2 separate regions of the Homo sapiens genome follow, and region 2 is linked to region 1. The links come from fine-mapping of genetic effects on gene expression. A gene starts in region 1. The other region holds a variant in brackets. All regions are shown on one strand. Distances are between the middles of the regions.

What was found. PIP is the estimated chance that this variant, and not a neighbour inherited with it, causes the effect.
Region 2: its variant is fine-mapped to the expression of TTLL12 in whole blood (INTERVAL, PIP 0.98).

What each region holds. Positions count from the first base shown.
Region 1 is chr22:43,181,629-43,191,496 of GRCh38, reverse strand. It overlaps TTLL12 (tubulin tyrosine ligase like 12), which reads left to right and starts at 4,363. Exons shown (of 14, transcript NM_015140.4): 1 at 4,363-4,604; 2 at 8,348-8,517. The coding sequence starts at 4,428. RefSeq lists silencers at 3,950-4,069, 4,318-4,477, 4,518-4,737 and enhancers at 5,118-5,177, 5,188-5,267, 5,208-5,712.
Region 2 is chr22:43,218,810-43,228,677 of GRCh38, reverse strand. SCUBE1 (signal peptide, CUB domain and EGF like domain containing 1) reads left to right here. Exons shown (of 22, transcript NM_173050.5): 10 at 1,182-1,304; 11 at 5,462-5,581; 12 at 5,936-6,040; 13 at 7,389-7,505; 14 at 8,091-8,228. Among named protein-coding and RNA genes, the nearest start is that of SCUBE1-AS2, 11 kb to the right of the region's middle. RefSeq lists enhancers at 1,680-2,245, 2,246-2,812, 7,930-8,431 and a silencer at 3,433-3,598. The variant G/C (reference allele first, on the strand shown) is at 5,280.

The DNA.
Region 1 (9,868 bases):
ATAAGAGAGAACTCAAACCAAATTCAGGAGTTCTGTCCAAGAGAGACTTACCAGGTGGGAGAAGAGGTGACTCACAAAGGTAGAAGGGTGTCAGAGGGCCCCAGTGTGAGATTCTCCCCAAAGTGGTTCAGTGCTTGGTCCCACTGCTGACACCATGTATGTCAAAATCAAAAATGTAGAGACAGCTCTGTAAACTTAATGTGTGTAGTTTTTTGTTTTTTTGTTTGTTTTTTTGAGACAGGGCTTCACTGTGTTGCTCAGGCTGGAATGCAGTGACACAGTCATGGCTCACTGCAGCCTCAACCTCCAGGGCTCCAGCAATCCTCCCGCCTCAGCCTCCCGAATATCTGGGACTACAGGCACCCACGACCATACCTGGCTAATTTTTGTATTTTTTGTACAGATGGGGTTTCACTGTGTTGCTCAGGCTGATCTCAAACTCCTGGGCTCAACCAATCTGCCCACCTTGACCTCCCAAAGTGTTGGGATTACAGGCATGAACTACCATGCCTGGCCTAAATGTAATGTTTTATTTGTGAAGAAGGAACTGCCATTCAGGGTGCACCTACAGACCAGGTGGTCTTTGCTTTGTCCGAAGAACAAAGAGAAGGTTAGAAGTTTTATTTAAAACAGAGAAATGGGCCAGGCACAGTTGCTCATGCCTACAATCCCAGTGCTCTGGGCTAAGGCAGAAGGATCACTTGAGGCCAGGAGTTTGAGACCAGCCTAAGCAACACAATGAGACCCCTGTCTCCACAGAAAACTTAAAAATTAGCCAGGCATAGTGGCACATGCTTGTAGTCCTAGCTACTCAGGAGGCTGAGGTGGGAGGATTGCTTGAGCCCAGGAGTTCAAGGCTGCAGTGAGCTATGATTGCGTCACTGGCCACTGCACTCTAGCCTGGGCAACAAAGTGAGACCCTTCCTCAAAAAGAAAAAAAAGAAGAAGAAATGTTACATATTGCTCTTTGAGAAAGTTCACTGGTACTTGTAAGGGTTTGGGGAGTTAGTAAGCTCAGCTTGGTGAGCCTTATTAGTCCTAGAGTTGCAGTCAGTTATCTCAGAAGTTATCAATAAATGGTTTTAGGTTACCACAAGCAGTTTCAGCAGTCGGGCTTACAGAGAATTACATTTTGGGAACAATGCCTTGCACCCCAAATGCTTTTTCCCTCTTGGCTTCTCAACTCTGTTTTAATTATGACAAGAATGACCCAATTTTTTTTTTTTTTTTTTTTTTTTGTGAGTTGGAGTCTCACTCTGTGGCCCAGGCTGGAGTGCAGTGGTACGATCTCGGCTCACTGAAACCTCTGCCACCAGGGATCAAGCAATTCTCCTGCCTCAGCCTTCCAAGTAGCTGGGGTTACAGGCACCGCACCAAGGCTAATTTTTGTAGTTTTAGCAGAGACGGGGGTTTCACCATCTTGGCCAGGCTGGTCTTGAACTCCTGACCTAGTGATCTACCCACCTCGGCCTCCCAAAGTGCTGAGATTACAGGGGTGAGCAACCACGCCTGGTGACCCAATTCTTATGATCAACTTTCACAAAGTCATTGTATTGGGTTTAGGCTCCATGTTGTATGAAAAACCCATTTTGTATGAGTACCCTTGGCAAAGCTCTCAGAACAAAAAGCTATCAGGGACCAAAGGTCAACCTGGGCTTGGATTTTCAGGATGGAAGGGCCTTTTTTATTTTTAGACGGAGTTTCCCCCAGGCTGGAGTGAGTTGATGCGATCTTGGCTCACTGCAACCTCCATACCCCCACCCCTGGGTTCAAGCAATTCTCCTGCCTCAGCCTCCTGAGTAGCTGGGATTGTAGGTGCCCACCACCATGCTCGGCTAAATTTTGTATTTTTAGTAGAGATGGGGTTTCACCATGTTGGTCAACCTGGTTTCGAACTCCTGATCTCAGGTGATCCACCCGCCTTGGCCTCCCAAAGTGCTAGGATTACAGGCATGAGCCACTGTGCCCGGCTATGGAAGGGACTTTTAAACTCTTTTTTTTTTCCCTGTTTCTCTCTCTCCTTTTTTTCAATTGTCTGGAGGGGGAGGGGGTTGGTGGCAGTAATGGGAGCAGAGCAGTAATTTTATGTTGATTAAATACACATTCTTCAGTGCCTCTTTAGAAGACAACATTTCAGCTGAGAAGAATGAGTCAGGATTTACAAAGTGAGCATGGGGAGAAAGGCTTTCTGGCAGAAAACAGAGCACAATGCTTTCCAGGAGCTGAAGACAACCAGAGATACAGGGACTCACAGTGTGAGGGGAAGAGTGTAATGAAAAGAGGCTGGAAAAGTTGGCAGTGCCAGCTCACACAGAGCCTTGGAGCTCAGGTGAAGAGTTGAACCACAAAGGGTTCCAAGTAGGGATCTGATACAACTGGGTTTACATTTGGGGAGGAGCATGTGAAAGAGGACTGCCCTGTCAGAGCCTCACATTCTCCTGGTCAAAGGGGCTGGGTCAGGAATGTTCACATAATCTGACCAGTACCTGACACAACTGAGACTCAGTCTGTCTTCCCCAGCGGGACCGATGGAAGGGTTGTGGAAGCGGGAGGTGCACTAGGTGTGTACCACTATACCTGGCTAATTAAAAATTTCTTTTTGTAGGGTCGAGGTCTTGCTTTGTTGCCCAGCCTGGTCTCAAACTCCTTATTTCAAGTGATCCTCCTGTCTTGGCCTCCCAAAGTGCTGGAATTACAGGTGTGAGCCAGCATGCCCCATCCTAGCATTGTGATGCTGTTTTACTATATTATTTATTTTGAGATGGAGTCTCGCTATGTTGACCAGGTTGGAGTGCAATGGTACAATCTCAGCCTTGGCTTCCACAACAAAAACCGAGGAATCAGGGTTTTCCTCTGGCCATGGTGAAACCCTGTCTCTACTGAATACAAAAAATTAGCCAGGCGTGGTGGCACACACCTGTAGCCCCAGCTACTTGGGAGGCTGAGGCAGGAGAATCACTTGAACCCGGGAGGCAGAGGTTGCAGTGAACCGAGACTGCACCATTGCACTCCAGCCTGGGCAACAAGAGCAAAACTCCATCCCAAAATAAATAAATAAATAAAATGTTTTTCTCTGCAGCCCTCACCAACTTGAGTTTGGAAATTTTTGCCTTTGCAGACCCACCTGCTTCCTACAATGGAATTGAACAAGTCCGTGAATTGGTGCATTTTATTCAAACTCAGTTCAAAAATGTTATCAAAATAGCATCTGAAGCTCCAAAAAATTTTCAGCCTTTGTTTTTTAGCAAATTACAATTCTTACAAAATTGCAAAAAGGAAGACATTGAAATGTATCCCTATGGAGCAATAAAACTCAATGAGAGTTCAAAAGAGAATGTCTTTTGAAATTCTATAACTGAACTGTTTTCTTTTAAAGAGGGAGTCTGGCTATGTTGCCGAGGCTGGACTTGAATTCTTGGGCTCAAGCTATCCTCCCGCCTCAGCCTCCCGAGTAACTGGGACTACAGACGCGGCCACCACGCCCAGCTCAACTGCACTTCGAAACATCCCGACATGTAGGAGTAAATTCCTCTGACGGGTACACTTGGTCTTAATTGGATCAACTGACATTCCGAATCCAAATATAAGTAATTGAGAAGGGCCACGATTTTGCAGCATCCAAATCTGGTGAAACGCTCACAAGAATCGAGAGCTCCCAAGGCAGGGGGCCTGCGAGCTCTGTGTGCCCGGTGCAGGCACAGAAGCGCCGCCTCACCGGGTTCGGGCCCCAGGACACCTTCCGGGCCGTCGGTGGGGCCTTTTCCGGTCCTGACAGCGCCCTATACGTAGGCACCCCGCCCTCCCGGCATTCCCCGGGGTCGCCGCGCGCTGAGCGAGAAAAGCTCAGCCACCATCAGGTGCGCGTGCGCACACGGCGGCAGCCAAACCACAGGCGCGGTCGCAGACGCGCGCCCCCTCCTGGCAAGCTCGCGCGCTCTCGCACGCACCCCGCCGATGCGCAGGGCCTGCCCGGGGGCCGCGGCAAACCGGGCTGGAGGCGGACTGGGGGCGGGGCGGGACGGGGTGAGGGGGCGAGAAGAGGGCGGGGCAGGGGAGGGGTCGGGGGGGCCGGGAGGAGGACGGGGCGGTGGGGAGGGGGGCAGGGGGCGGGGGCAGGGGGCGCGGCAGGGGCGGGGGGCTGGGGGGAGGACGGGGCGGTGGGCGGGGGGCTGGGAGGAGGACGGGGCGGGGGTGCTGGGAGGCGGGCGGGGCGGGGGGCGGAGGCGGGGGGGGCTGGGAGGAGGGCGGGGCGGGGGGGGGCTGGGAGGAGGGCGGGGCGGGGGGGGGCTGGGAGGAGGGCGGGGCGGGGGGGGGGGCGCTGGGAGGAGGGCGGGGCGGGGCAGGGGGCGGAGGCGGGAGGGCAGGGCCGACGGACGGCGGGCGGCGGCGGCGGTGGCGGCGCTGGAGTCGGCGCGGGTGCTGGCGCCATGGAGGCCGAGCGGGGTCCCGAGCGCCGGCCTGCGGAGCGTAGCAGCCCGGGCCAGACGCCGGAGGAGGGCGCGCAGGCCTTGGCCGAGTTCGCGGCGCTGCACGGCCCGGCGCTGCGCGCTTCGGGGGTCCCCGAACGTTACTGGGGCCGCCTCCTGCACAAGCTGGAGCACGAGGTGCGGGGAAGGGCGGCGGGCACGTGCGGCGGCCGGGGTGGGAGCGCGGCGGGAGCCCGCGGCGCGGGACAGGGAAGAGCGCTCCCGGGCGGCGGGAGCCGCGGTGAGCCACCCAGAGCGCGTCCTGGGCAGCTCTGGAGCGGCGTGGAGTTGGGGGCCGAAGAGTGACAGCAGGAGACCGGGGTACCTGCGGCCCTGATCTGCCCGGGCCCGAGACCGGCTGAGGGCTGCGTTGGGAACTTTAGGTCCTCCACACACCCGAGCCTGACACAGCCCTGCGAGGAGTGAAACTCATCACCCCCACTTCACAGATGAGAACACTGCGGCTCCGAGAGTCCCTTCAGAGGGATTCTTTCAGCCGCTGCCTCACAGGGACAACGGGAACCCCGTGAATTTGTGTAGCTGTAACTGTTGGGTTCACAGAATTCGGTGTTTTTTCATTTGATTTGAGCCTCGGGGTCCCCTCATCTTGCAGGTTAAAGAAAACAGGCTGTGAGAGGTGGAGGAGAAATCTAAAGAAAAATGGAAAAGATTGAGAAGCCTCTAGGTTCTCTCCCTTTTTGTGAGGACGGCCCATCCGGCTCACCTGCCTCCTCCACTCCAAAGCGTTCCCCACTGTCCTGGCTGGGGATGAGCCCTGGATTTTTATTGCGTGCCCAGAGGCTGAGGCCACAGCACCTTCCCGGGCTGGCGGGGGGGGGGGTGTTTTCTTTAGCTGGGACCCGACATCTCCTCCAGGTGCTGTCTCCCGGACGGAGATGAGCCTAGTGGCGCAGGTGATGAAGTGGAAACCCCAGAGCCAAGAACAGGGACCCGGGCCGGGAACTAGGAGTCCCTGAGCCTGGCTGCTGGCCAGACTCTACGGTCTCTGAGCCAGTTTTTCTCTGTGTAATCCTGATTGGACTAGGAACCTTCCTGCTGGAAACGTGCAGTGAGTGGCACCTCCTTATGCTACAGTGTAACAGAGAGTTTCCTCTGCCCCTCACTTCTGCCATATGCTTTCCGAGGACCACTCTGGTCCCAGGCCTGTGCTGGGTGGAAGGGACCTTGGTTTGTTCATGAGGACAAAAAGGTTCCCATGGGCTGCGTGGAAGGAGCACAGTGGGAATGACCAGCTCCTGCCCAGCCAGCCTCCACGGCAGCACGCCCTCCCTCGGGCGGTCACTCGCCCGTCTGAGACCTGTTCTCCATCTGGGAAGGGGATGGTGAGACACCATCTGGCTCCCACAGTATTGGAAGGATGGGAGGTGGCATGAGAAATATGCCTGGCACACAGAGGGTGGTCGCCACCGTGCCACGTCCCCTGCCCAGGCCGCCTTGCCTGCTGTTGCCCTACTAAGGGGCAGCCAGTGTTTTTCCGTGACCCTTCCCCAGCCGTTAAGGACAGAGCTGAATCACTGCTTTACCATTCACAAACTTGCAGCTCTTCCTGAGTGAAGCCTCCTGCTGCTACTGGCCCAGGTGTGGAGGAGGCCGCCAGCAGCAGCAGCACCTGCCAGCGCTGTGGGCCCTTACACCCCTGGCCATCAGCCCTCCTGCCTCACCTTAGGCCGGCTGCCCTGGAAAGGATGGGGAAACTTGAAGATACATACATATATATATATATATATATATATATATATATATATATATATATATATATATAATTTTTTTCTTTTTTTAATTGAGACGGAGTCTTGCTCTGTCACACAGGCTGGAGTGCAGTGGCATGATCTCGGCTCACTGCAAGCTCTGCCTCCCGGGTTCAAATGATTCTCCTGCCTCAGCCTCCCGAGTAGCTGGGATTACAGACGTGCGCCACCACACCCAGCTAATTTTTGTATTTTTAGTAGAGATGGGGCTTCACCATGTTGGTCAGGCTGATCTCGAATTCCTGACCTCGTGATCCGCCCGCTTTGGCCTCCCGAAGTGTTGGGATTACAGACGTGAGCCGCCACGGCCGGCCGAAGAGATGTTTTTAAAATGTCTACTCTTCTGTCTGCACAAGCTTCCCAGTTGCAAAACCACTCCCCTTATCTCCTGGGGAGCTCTTCCAGTCCTGCCATGAAGGGGTTGTGGTGAAGGAGAAACCCAGCACCCCATTTCACAGCTGGGTTGAATCCAGGCCAGGCTTGAGACAGGCTCTCTGACCCTCAGCCTCACGCTGTCCCCTAGGGATTTGGAGTACTGGGGCGGAAGCCCGAGGTCTGGATTCCAGCCCTCTGAGCCTCCCCCCAGCCCTAAACTGGAGAAGGCAGTAGCCTCCCCAGACCCACCTTGAGGGCTAAAGGAGAACTGGATGGCTCTTGTCTCAGGTGCCTTGTCTCTCATGTGACCCCTGGTTTGCTCCACCCTGGGCTATCTGCCTCCAGGCCTTCGCTCTTACTCTTCCCTCTGCGTGGAGTTCCTTTCCATCCTCACCCCGTAGCCTCATGTTTAAATCTTCCCCTTCTTCAAAGCTGGCCTCTGGTTATGGTTCCTCATCCATAAAGTCTTCCCAGGCCCTCCAGGCCCCAGAGCAATTTACCTGATACTCTTAGGTGGCCTAGACCTTACTCAGCCTGAGCTTCCTGAGCGAGACCTTGAGTGATTCATCCTCACGCCACCAAAGGGCAAGTCCTGCCCAGTGCACAAAAGCTGCCTGCACCTGAGTACTTAGCTAGTTTCCAACTGCCGTTTTTAATCGAGTAGTGGGAAATACGTTTTAGGGAGGAACTGGCCTTTGTTGAGCCTCCACTGTGCGCCAGGACTTTATGCACGCTGTTTGATTTCATTCCATCAGTGTCCTGAAAGGTGGATGACACCCCCTCTCACAAGTGAAGAAACAGTCTCAGAAGTGTAACAATGGCGCCACGTGTTTATAGAGCATTTGCTGTGGCCAGGCTCCACTCTGAGTTCTGGGTATGAATCACCTAATCCTCCCAGTAGCCCTCAGAGGGAGGTTCTGTTATTCCCATTGTGTGGATGAGGAAACACGCATGGGATAGTTAAGTAACTTGTTCAAGGTCACTTGTCTAGGAAGTGGTGAAACCAAGATTTGAACCCACACAGCCTGGCTCCAGAATCTGCCCAGAAGCCCCCCTTGCCGGCTTGTGGCAGACAGGGCGTGAGTGTGGCTGTGCCAGGGACCCCTCTGCTCCACACACACCAGAAGAGGTCACTTGCCTGCTTGACTAGCCGCACAAGGCAGGACCAAGGCCCTTATCTCCCCATCCCACCTTGACCTGGGGCCTCGCTTCCTGTTGGCCTGGATTGGGTGGGGCTGGGCTGGAGGAGGCTTCTCTGTGAGTTGACTCAGCTGTCCTAGTGTTGAGGGGTTCTTCTGGTGAGGGGGGCATTGGGGTGTGCCCCCAGCCACCAAGATCCTGACTCTTCCATTGACCTCCAGTGTAATTGGAGCCACCCTCTCTGCCTTTGGGGCCTCTCTTTCTGTGTAATGTGAGTGGGGTGGACTACAGATACCTCCAGCAAGTCCTCAAGGTCCCATCTCCATGCACAGCATCCTGTGGGACGAGGCTCTGGATGACAGCTCAGGTGACGGTGGGGTACATTAGGTCCCTGTTCCGAGCCTGAAATCTCCAGGAGCTTCAGTCTCCCCGCCCGTAAGACTGTGTGGTTGCATTAAACAGGTCCCACACCTCTGAAGGAGACAAGTTTGTCCTTGAGGCCTGGGTGTGGCACCTCGGGTGGCTTTCTGGAGTGGTGAAGGCATTGGGGTGGGGTCTCCTGCCCACACCCCTGCTGACGGGAACTCTGGCCCCCAGGTTTTCGACGCTGGGGAAGTGTTTGGGATCATGCAAGTGGAGGAGGTAGAAGAGGAGGAGGACGAGGCAGCCCGGGAGGTGCGGAAGCAGCAGCCCAACCCGGGGAACGAGCTGTGCTACAAGGTCATCGTGACCAGGGAGAGCGGGCTCCAGGCAGCCCACCCCAACAGGTAGGAGCCTGGCCAGAGACACCACCACAACCTTCACTTGGTGAAAGGTGGGAGATGCAGTAATGCAGATTCTCCTGGGCCCTGCACCGCCGCTGGACATCTTCCTTAGGACAGCTTTGTGGCAAGCACGTGTGGCCAGCGGTGTGTCCATCAGGGCTTCAGAGTACTGTCCGTGGCAACACAGCGTTCCTGGGGTGACCGGATGGACCGCGGCCTGAGAGCCTCTCCCAGCGGTCTCATTGTCACAGTGGTCCTGCTACAGGGGATTAGAAGTTCCAGTTTTGCTCGAGGTCACCCTCCAGGTTAAGGGTGCAGGTCAGCCTTACTCCTCCCCAGTCACAGCCCCTCTCTGGTCCTGCTAAATTGGAATCTGGGGTGGGCCCTGGAACACCTGAGGACCTGAGACCCAGAGCAGGCCTGGCCTTGCCAAGGACCACGGTGTAGTTAGGGCAGAGCTGAGACTGTACCCCAGGCTTCCTGCCCCCAGGGACCAAGAGTGGCTATCCCTAGGTCAGGCCTGCAGGCCCATCTGCCAAAGGTTTTGTGGACCCTCAGAGAAACTTGCTGGGCCCCTGTGTCCACGCACAGCTCTTTGGGCAGGGGTCTGGTCTCTTCTGCAGAGCTTCTCCCGCCTCCTCCTCCAGCTGGGAGTGGGCAGTAGCAAGCCACCCCGGAAATACGGACAGCCCAGCACCCCCGCCCATGCGTGCTTGGGCTCACCGTCCCCTTCAGGTTCAGTGAAGTGAGTTCTCCTGTGCGGCTCAGGCCCAGGAACAGGTGAATTCAGTGCAGTGGCTGCCCTGGGAGCTCCCAGCTCATGTTCTCTCTCGGGCCTACAACCACATACCCCGCTGCCAGCCTTGTTTTGGGTGGTGGGGAGGCTAGGGATCCAGAGTCTTGGATTTGGAGCCTGAGTGTTTGTTTCAGCCCCACCTGCTTCCGGGCCTTTCTGCTTCCGGGCCTTTCTGCTTCCGGGCCTTCATCCCCCTGAGTCTCCCCTGATTGCCAGGCCCTAACAAGCTCTCCATCCTCATCCCCATAGCTATCTTTGTACAACACCCCTTGTTGCACTTGCCCAGGGTCACCCCGAAGGCCTGGCTCTGCCCTGCATCACGTGGTCACCCACTCTAACACAAGTGCAAGAGTAAACCCACTTATTTTAGGACAGGCCAACAAAACTCATATAAGCACAATAAGATAAATACTCCTGAACTTGCCCCCCAGCCTAAGAACTGGAACACTGGCTGTCCCTTTCATTTTAAAAGGGGAACAGAGACGGGGGCAAGCTGGGGGCGGCTTTGTCTATTAGGCACCTGTGTGTTTGGTGCCTCCTGATCCGGCAGAGCTCTGG
Region 2 (9,868 bases), 37 kb before region 1:
GGAGTGTTTGGCTGGGGGTAGGGAGGCACTCCAGAGGGATCCGCATGAGAAAGCAGTGGACAGAAGGACCGAGAGGCAGCCACAGGACTGGAGCCCACAGGAGGGAGCTCAGAGGAAGATGCGGATAGGGGGCGCCATCCCACCATGCAGGCTGCGTGAGCCCGCAGGGGAGTTGAGGGTTTATTCCCAGTCAGATGAGAAGCCTGTGGAGGGTTTAAGCAGGGGTGTGATATGGTCAAGTTCATGGAACTAGATGCCCCAGTGACCACATGGAAAGGAGAGTGGAATCCAGGGTACCACTGGGAAGACAGCTCCAGGCATGGGAGCATGCACTGCTGGAGCCGGGGCAGGGTGGGCAGCGACGGAACAAAGAGGAAGATTCTAGATGTATTTAGGAGTCAGAGCCAGGCTGCTGGGACTTGGTGTTATATGGGCATGGTGGGTGAAGATTAGGAAGCCAAGGACGGTCCCCCTCTCTCTTCCTTTTCTGTGACCTGGGGGTAGCCACACTCACGATGCCAGGCCACTTGAAGATCAGACAGGGTCAGGCAAGAATGTGATCAGGACATAGCTGGTGCTTGGGCTTCTGGAGGCGGGCTACAGATTCTTCTGGAAAGACTCTCGAAAACTTGGGCACCCCTTCCCTGGGCCTGCCGAGTGCAGGCAGCTCAAGAACTAACAGAATGTGGGGCCCAGCCCCTTCCCCCAGCTTCAGCGGGTGCTTTTGGTCAGAGGAGGAAAGGCCTTAGCGGTGACCTCTTTCACCCTGGTGTCTGTTGTACCACAGGGGACCCGGGGCTAGAAAAGGGCTTGTCCAGAGTCCCACGGTAAAATCAGTTTCACAATCCCTGGAGCAGTGCTCATTCCCTGCGCCACAAAACCTGGTTGGGTTGGAACTTTAATCGTGTGCTACCTCCTCTGCCCCCTAGCCTGGGGTGCAGCTGCTTGAGTTCAGAAAACCACCCAGGTTCCTGGGGGAAGGGACGCTGGGGTCTGTGAGGAGCCTTATAAACCCACGCGTGTGTGTGCGTGTGGCGTGTGCACTGCTCATCTGCATCCCGTGATGCTGTCCGACTCGGTGGGGTCAGGAGATTCTTGCCCTCTTGCCCTGGGTGGTCCCTTCCCCTGCCAGCCGCCAGCCGCCAGCCTCCCCTCTGCCCTTACGCCCGCTGTGCTTCCAGATGTGGACGAGTGCAGCATGAGCAACGGGAGCTGTGACCAGGGCTGCGTCAACACCAAGGGCAGCTACGAGTGCGTCTGTCCCCCGGGGAGGCGGCTCCACTGGAACGGGAAGGATTGCGTGGGTAGGTGGCCGCCCTGTGCTGCTGGCCCCTCCCCTGCACCTGGGCTTGGATGGGAGGGACAGTGGCTTTTCTGAGGTGGGGGTGAGCAGGACAGCCCCTCCCTTTCCTCTAGGCCTTGCATTCCCAGGCAGAGGTTCTCTGCTGTTGGGGTATGGCTGATGGGAATGAGGACTTGCAGAAAAGGAGGGGGTCCCAGGCAGAGCATGCCAGTGTCAGCCAGAGGCACTGCAACAGGGACCTGAAGTGGGGAGGAGGGCACAGAGGAGATCTGCAGGTCCATGTGCAGCCCAGCCGTGGGGCACAGGGACCCTGCTGATGTCTCCATAGAGCTGGAAGCTTAGAGGGAGTGGGTGTGGAGGCCTCTCCTCTGGTAGCTTCCCCTTGTCTTGCTGAGGAGGCTGAGGGGGAGGAGGAGGGTCACTCGGGGTGCAGCAGCCTCAGTGGGGCACAGTTGCAGGGGATGTGGCAGTGCCTCCTGGAAAGCCCATGGTCCCTGCCCCCTCTGCAGGCATGCTCGCAGCACTGGGTGCCCCTAGGCTGAGTTCTGGACGGGCCCCTGCGTTCCCTGGTTCCCTGTACATGGGACCCTGTCTGGGTGCTGGGGCTGTGGGCCTGCCCTCCTGGAACCTCCACGCCGGGTCCTTGCCCCGCCACACTCTGACATCCCCAGGGCAGCCTAAGTGAGCCTTTTAAATGTAAGTTAGAACATCCCTCTGGGCTCAGAACCCCGCCCCCACCCCCACCCTCCGCCCCTTCCAACCCCGGTAACTCCTCCTTTGACTCTGAATCAAAGCCACAGCGCTTGGAATGGCCCGAAGGCTGCCGCCAGCTGACAGGATTGCCCTCTGCTGTCTCCCTCGCTTCACGCCAGCCTCACTGACTTCGCAGGGCCTCCACCAGCCCTCAGCCCGAGGCTGTGCGCTTCTCTTGGCCTGGAGGGCCCCCCCACACCAGCACTCCTCACTCCTCCCTTGCTGTGAGGGTCTGTGAGTGAGGCCTGCCCCATCACCCACCCAGAGCCGCAGCCTTGGCCACTTCCGCACCCATCTGGGCCCCCTGTGCTTCCAGCTTGCTTTCCCTCCCATCACACTCCCAGCCACCAGAAGTAATGTGCACTTTACAGGTTCGTGTTGGTGTATGTCTGTCTGTCTGTCCATCTCTCTCTCCTCACTAGAATGTAAGCTTTACACAGTTAAACAGGTCTTCTTGGCCTGTCCCATTTACTGCTAGAGCCCCAGCACCTGGAACAGACCCTGACAATCACAGACACAGAGTAAATATTTGTCAGTGAACACATTAACGAATACAAACCATCATTTAATATCTGAAATCCAAAGGCTGAGTTTATCACGTACTTGTGGAAGGACTTGCTGTGCTTTTCAGGCAAAGTCTCACTGAACAAAGTCAACTGCTGCTCTTCTGCTGAGTTTTGGGAAAGAGCTTGTTTGGGGTTGTACGGGTGGCGGAGGCAGCATGAGGGGATCTCCGTCTTACAAGCATAGGAAGGATATGGTACCTTCAGATTCTTTGCAGGAAAGCGTTGTTCATTGAGGGTGTTAGGGGGTCATTGCTCTGTGGTGAGCAGGTTTACGCAAACCTGCCTCCAAAGGGCAAGAAACTGAGTGGCAGAAGAAAGAGGCTGACACATTTAGTTTCTCAGAAAGAAACATTTGGCCGGGCACGGTGACTCACGCCTGTAATCCCAGCACTTTGAGAGGCTGAGGTGGGCAGATCACCAGATCACCTAATTTTTGTATTTTTAATAGAGACGAGGTTTCACCATGTTGGTCAGGCTGGTCTCGACCTCCTGACCTTGTGATCCACCCACCTCAGCCTCCCAAAGTGCCGGGATTGCAGGCGTGAGCCACCGAGCCCGGCCGCTTCTACTGCTCTTTACCATCTGTTGCTTTTGAACTTTTTCTTCCATCCAAGATCCTAACACTTAGGTGAACTCATTGTGATACAGATCTGATCATCCGGGACAATAACTATCCAGCGATATCCTGAATTCTTAAGCAAATGTTTGTCTGTCTCCTGGAGTTTAGGAAAATTTCCTTCAGCACTCAGCATAGCTCTAGACGTGGCTTTACATCCAGCATTAGAGATCTGATTTCTGGCTTTCCTGGGATAAACCCTAAGGGAGGAGTTGCTTGTGTAGGAGATGGAGGGGCAGGAGTGGGGGGGTGATGCGATAAGTGGCTGGTGAAGATGGAGCTGGGCAGAGAGAGTGGCAAGTGGATTTCGGAAGGTTTGAGTGGGAGGAAACTGAGGCCAAGGTATACCAGTGGCAGAAGCTATTAAATGATGAAATTTTGTCTCCTAACATTTTAGAGCTCCTCTTAAATATATTAATGTATTAGTTTTGATGTGTCAGAAGTTCCCACAATGACCAACGTTATTCTAAGCTGGTGGTGGTAGTTGTCGCTGTTTAGGTTTTGTGGTGAGTAGGGGGCAGTTTGCCATTTACCAGGACAAGCACAAGTTAGGATAATAGTCTAAATTCATAAGGCTGCAGGAGTTCAGCCAGGGAAGTTGCAGCCTTGGCATAACCAGCCCATGATCATCACTTTCATCAGTCAAAAGTGTGTGCTTAGCATGACGTTCCGGTTCCCCCAACCAGACACAGGCTGGAAAGGGCCGTGCAGTCAGTGACCTGACAGCTGTGACCCCAGAATATGGAGAAAACAAAGGGGCCTCCTTTCACGTGTTGGCAGAACAGGAGCGCCCTGAGGAAGATTTTAGAAGGGACCCAAGGAAAGCCCTGCCTAGTTGCCTACAGGAATTGGCCCCTAGTATCATAGACCTCTGACCATTGATCCTGGGGGCCAGCTTGGATTGAGTTGGAAGCATGCAGGGCCTGTGTCGCCATCTGGTCCCCAAGGAGCACCCTGTTATCTATCCATCAAACACAAGACAAGTCAGAGCACAACAAAACTCATGGGATAAACCTTTATCTAATAGTCAAGCAAAAGCAAAGTGCCCAGCAGCAGAACACACAGGTAAATGTGTGTCTCCGAACACAAGGTCTTGCTCCCCAGCCAGAGGCCCACTTGCTAACAAAGCAGTCAGCACGAGAGAGCAGCAAAGCAAGTGAGAGCTCAGAGTGTTGTCACACGGTGCCCTCGCAGAAAGCAATCAGCAGGACAGACAAAATGTGGGCCCCGGGGGTTGACCAAGGACACCTGTGGCCCACGGCACCCAAAGGACACTGGGAAGCAAGGGTTTCTAAAACAATCTTGGAGGAACCTCCAGAATTACCAAAGGATGAGATCAGCCACCGCTCAGTATCTGAAACCAGAAAGCTGAGCTGTCGCTTAAGTAAGGGGGAGCTGTGTTGGTCAGGCAGGCTCAGGGAGCAAAGCAAACTGCTGATCTTCCCTGGGGATTTGGGGCAAAGCTTATTCCAGGCAGGTTGGGATTAGGTTGATGGGAGTCTAGAAGCATGGCCTGTGTGGGTTACAGAAGGGAGGTGACTTGACTGAACCTGGAAGCCTGGTTACACTGGAGTAACTCCACATTGATGACTGACCAGAGTGCGAGGCTGTCACTCATGAGGTGGCTTTCAGAGGCGTGCCACATAAGCCGGTTGTCACCGACCAATTAGCCATCTGTAAAATCAGTTCTGGTATTTACCATGGCTGTAGAACCGTCCGTCTTTTCCTAGGAGTCCGGGGGACTTTTTCATCCTCTAAAGATAAGTAAGCAAGTGAGAAATTCTGGAGGGCTGTTTCTCCAGACACCTGATGGCTGTAGCAGAGGCTGCCCCAAAGAGGTGCTTCCGAGCGATCCCCCCCACGGCCCCTCCCAGGAAGCCAGTGTTCATTTAGCGCCGTTCCTTTCCCCAGTGGGAATGGACGCCTGCCCTGGAGAGCTCAGCCCTGCCCTCAGGGAGTTTCTGATCTGGGGATGGGGACATGAACCTTCTCACAGCCAGGATTAGAGCCTGAAGGGGAGGAGGGACTAAGCCAGCTGTCT[G/C]GGCCCAGCATCCCCACACGCCCAAGGGACCTGCGATCTCCAGGCGCCTTCCCACCAAGCCAGCCCAGCCATGGAAGAAGGGAGTTGGGGGAGTCCCCATTAGGCCATACCCAGGACCCTCCTGGCTCCAGGAAGCCTCCGCCCTGGCCTCTCTCAGCCCTCTCTCGTATCTCCCTTCATAGAGACAGGCAAGTGTCTTTCTCGCGCCAAGACCTCCCCCCGGGCCCAGCTGTCCTGCAGCAAGGCAGGCGGTGTGGAGAGCTGCTTCCTTTCCTGCCCGGCTCACACACTCTTCGTGCCAGGTAACCCGGGCCGTCCCTGAGATGGGATGCTGTGGCAGGGGGGTCTTCCTCCCTGGGGTCCCACCATTGCTCCCAGCTGTCCTCCAGGAAAGAGTCTGACCTAGGAATGAGGGTCTCTGATAACTGAGTGACCCTAAGGCAGCTGTCTGGTTTTCTGTGGGCCTCGCTGTCCTTCTCAGTAAACCCAGTGGGCTCCTTCCTCCTGGCCACTTCCCTGTGGTTGTGTAGCAGAAACTGGCAGAAGAATCTGTCCTGATCTTCGTCTCACTCCACAATCCCTCTGAGGCCCCAAGAATCTGAGGGCCGTGGGAGGGAGGAGCACCAGGCCCACCTCACCCACCGGCTTCTCTGCAGACTCGGAAAATAGCTACGTCCTGAGCTGCGGAGTTCCAGGGCCGCAGGGCAAGGCGCTGCAGAAACGCAACGGCACCAGCTCTGGCCTCGGGCCCAGCTGCTCAGGTAACCCCCCCGGCCTGTCCATGCTGCATGCCACTGGGTGACTTGACTGCATCCAGCAACATGCTGGCGGGGGAGGAAAGGGCACCGCCCAGGGAAGACCTTCCTGCTCTCGGCCCTGCTCCGTGTGGCCTGGGGTGCTGGCGATGAGCCAGGCCCAGGACCTAGAAGCCAGCAGGCTGCAGGCCGAGTTCTAGCCCAGGGTCAGGGGACCGTGGGAGGGCCCTTCCGGCTCTGAGGTCACAGCCAGAGTGGTTCAGGGACTCTAACGTGCTGTGAGTGCACAGATCTCAGACTGTATGGGTGGAGCAAGCCACATCTGCTGTGGCTATTAGGTTCTCCCGAGTCAGAGCTGGCCTGGCCGTGCAGAGCATGCCAAGAAGCGCCGAGGTGCAGCACAGTCCCAGCCCTTTGGGAGTGACCCGCTGGGCTTGGTCGGCATGGCACAGCCAGCCTTAGCTCCTGCCAGCTAAGGAGCTGAGGGTTGTGTCTTCAGCAGCTTTTCTTATTCAGGATGCTGGATTTGATAGATAGGTGCATTTCTGTATGTTTCTTTATTATTATTATTATTATTTTTAAAACGGAGTCTCGCTCTGTCACCCAGGCTGGAGTGCAGTGGCGTGATCTCGGCTCACTGCAACCTCCGCCTCCCAGGTTCAAGCAATTCTCCTGCCTCAGCCTCCTGAGTAGCTGGGATTACAGGTGCCCATCACCACACCTGGCTAATTTTTGTATTTTTAGTAGAGACATGGTTTCACCATGTTGGTCAGGCTAGTCTGGAACTCCTGACCTCAAGTGATCCGCCTGCCTCGGCCTCCCAGAGTGCTAGGATTACAGGCGTGAGCCACCGCACCCTGCCCATTTCTATATATTTAATGCATATGTGATTTGATTCTAAGCACCTGTGGTGGTAGGATTCTTTAGTCCAAGGGCTATGATTTGCTCTTGCAAGGAACCGGCAGTCCTGGATCTATAGTATTTCAAAGCCCCTTCCCTTCCTTGCTGTCCTATCTCTCTTCTGTTCTACGCTCTTTCCTAAAGCACAATCATGGCTTGCTGATGGGGAGGAGGTAGGAGGATCCCTGTCCTCCTTCTCAGAAGACCTCTGGCGGGTGGCCCCTGGGCTTGAGCTTGACCCCACCATCCATGTGTTCACCTGTTTTAGGCCTTGCAGGGAGAGAAATGGGGCAGGAGAGGGTCCCCCACCCCAGGAGAGCTGTCGGGGCACAGGGACTCAGATCAAGCCCCACCCCCAGCTCCAGATGGATTTGTCCCCTGGCAGCCCCCGTCCCCCACCACCTCCTTGCCTGCAGGAGAGGCCACCACCTGGGGGAATTTTGGCTTTCCCCAGATGCCCCCACCACCCCCATCAAACAGAAGGCCCGCTTCAAGATCCGAGATGCCAAGTGCCACCTCCGGCCCCACAGCCAGGCACGAGCAAAGGAGACCGCCAGGCAGCCGCTGCTGGGTGAGTGGGACGCCCTGCTCCTAACCCACACCAACGGGGCTGTAGGAGAGTCCTCATGCCTGGGAGCTGGGGCCCCAGGGTCCAGCGAGTCTGGTTTCCAAGGGTGGAGGTCTCTCTCACCTGGCAGCTGTTTATTGAATGAGAGTTTCCAAGGACATTGCAGGCTGGGGAAACAGCGGAGGGCAAGCTTGGTACGAGGGGCCCCGGAGGAAGGCACCAGCTCTGTCCCCGTGAAGATTCCTTCTCAAACCTAACAGAGCTCTCAGCACGCAGCAGGCTCTGCCCAGAGCCGAGTCTGCACTGGCCAAACCCTCAGCAGGCCCAGAGCTGGGGGCACAGCCTCATTCATGAATATGTATGAGATGCCTCCACCTGCAGCAGCGTGATGGACCGGGCGTGAGACCTGGCTCAGCCACCAGCCCCTCCTGAGACCCCGAGCCAGCCCTGACCTTCTCTAGCCTGAGTTTTTCCGTCTGCACCACGGACCAGGAAGTCCTTGCCAATGGCACTCTGTATGCAGGGCTTGGTAGGACCTTGCTCCCTGCCCCATGCCGCCTTTGCCACAGTGGTCCTTTCCTCGTCCAGACCACTGCCATGTGACTTTCGTGACCCTCAAGTGTGACTCCTCCAAGAAGAGGCGCCGTGGCCGCAAGTCCCCATCCAAGGAGGTGTCCCACATCACAGCAGAGTTTGAGATCGAGACAAAGATGGAAGAGGCCTCAGGTAGGTGAGGGGTTCTCCTGGGGGCTTCTGCAGGCCTGAAGGAGGACGACAGGCTGGTGGCGCTGCCGGGGGCCTGCCAGGCATGAAGCTAGGCTCCCACCAGAGCACAGCTGTGGCTGGGATGGGAGCCCAGCTTCTGGAGACAGAGGCAGGCCCACAAGCAAAGGGAGCTGGCAGGGGTCAACGCTTGCAGCCCAGGATAGAAGAGGCAGCCCAGGGCAATGAGACAGAAGAGCCGAGGTGACCTCAAAAGTCACATGACCCTTATCTGCCCCTCCACACTCCTGCTGGGACCCGGGAGGACAAATAGGTGCAGCCCCCCTAGAATGGTTGAGCCAAGGATTGTCTTTCCTGGTTCCTGAAGGAGGTTCTAATGCTGGCTCGGGTGTCACAGCAGCACTTTGCTCTTGGCTATATGTGAGTGTCAACCTGTGAGTCGTTGATGTTGAAGAGATGGGATCTGTCAGCAGATAAGTGTGGTATGGGCCTGGCTGTGGGCTTGGGCGCTGTGGAAAGAAAAGTCCCCACCCAGGTAACACTCTCAGCCAGAGAGGCAGACGCACGTGCAAACCACCCATTGCCAGGTGGGACTCTCGGTGGTGGGGGCACAAGAACAAACAATGCATAGAACTGAGGTCTGCCCCCCACGGGAGGGCTTAGGAAATGTCTTAGTCTGGCTGGGCACACTGGCTCACGCCTGTAATCCCAGCAGTCTGGGAGGGCCAAAGTGGGTGGATCACTTGAGTTCAGGAGTTCAAGACCAGCCTGGCCAACATGGTGAAACCCTGTCTCTACTAAAAATACAAAAATTAGCCAGGTGTGGTGGCAGGCACCTGTAATCCCAGCTACTCAGGAGGCTGAGGCAGGAGAATCGCTTGAACCTGGGAGGCAGAGATTGCAGTGAGCTGAGATCGCGCCACTGTGCTCCAGCCTGGCGACGAGTGAGACTCTATCTCAAAAAAAAAAAAAGGAAATGTTTTAGTCTATTTGCGTTGCTAAAAGGAACACCTGAGGCTGCATAATTTATCAGGAAAAGAGCTTATTGGCTCTCGGCTCTGCAGGCTGTCCGAGAACACGGCAGCAGCATCTGCCTGGCGAGGCCTTAGGCTGCTTCTGCTCACGGAGGAAGGTGAAGAGCAGCTGGCATCACATAGCAAGAGTAAGGGAGCAAGAGAGAGGGGAGGGGGTGCCTATGTCTTCACCAGTCACATCTCGTGGCGACTAGTAGAGCCAGCAAGAACTGACTACCACACCAGGCCATTCATGAGGGACCTACCCCATGACCCAGACACCTCCCACCAGGCCCCACCCCCAGCATTAGGGATCAGATTTCAACATGAGGTTTGGAAGAGACAAATATTGAAACCATATCAGGAAGCTTTCCCAGAAGAGGTGCCATTTGAATGAGAGCTTAGAATCAAAGCTCACTGGGTGGAAAAGGTGGCAAGGAATGGCATTCAGGCAGAGGGAATAGAATAGGCAAAGGCACAGAGGTCAGAGAGAGGAGGAGGTGTCCAGGAAGCAGTAAGTAGGGCCAGGTGGCTAGACATTGGAATCCACAGGGAGTGTCAGAGTGGAGGGGATGAGGCTGGCAAGGCCATACGGGGCTGGACCTTGAAGGGCCTTGGATTCAAGGCCAG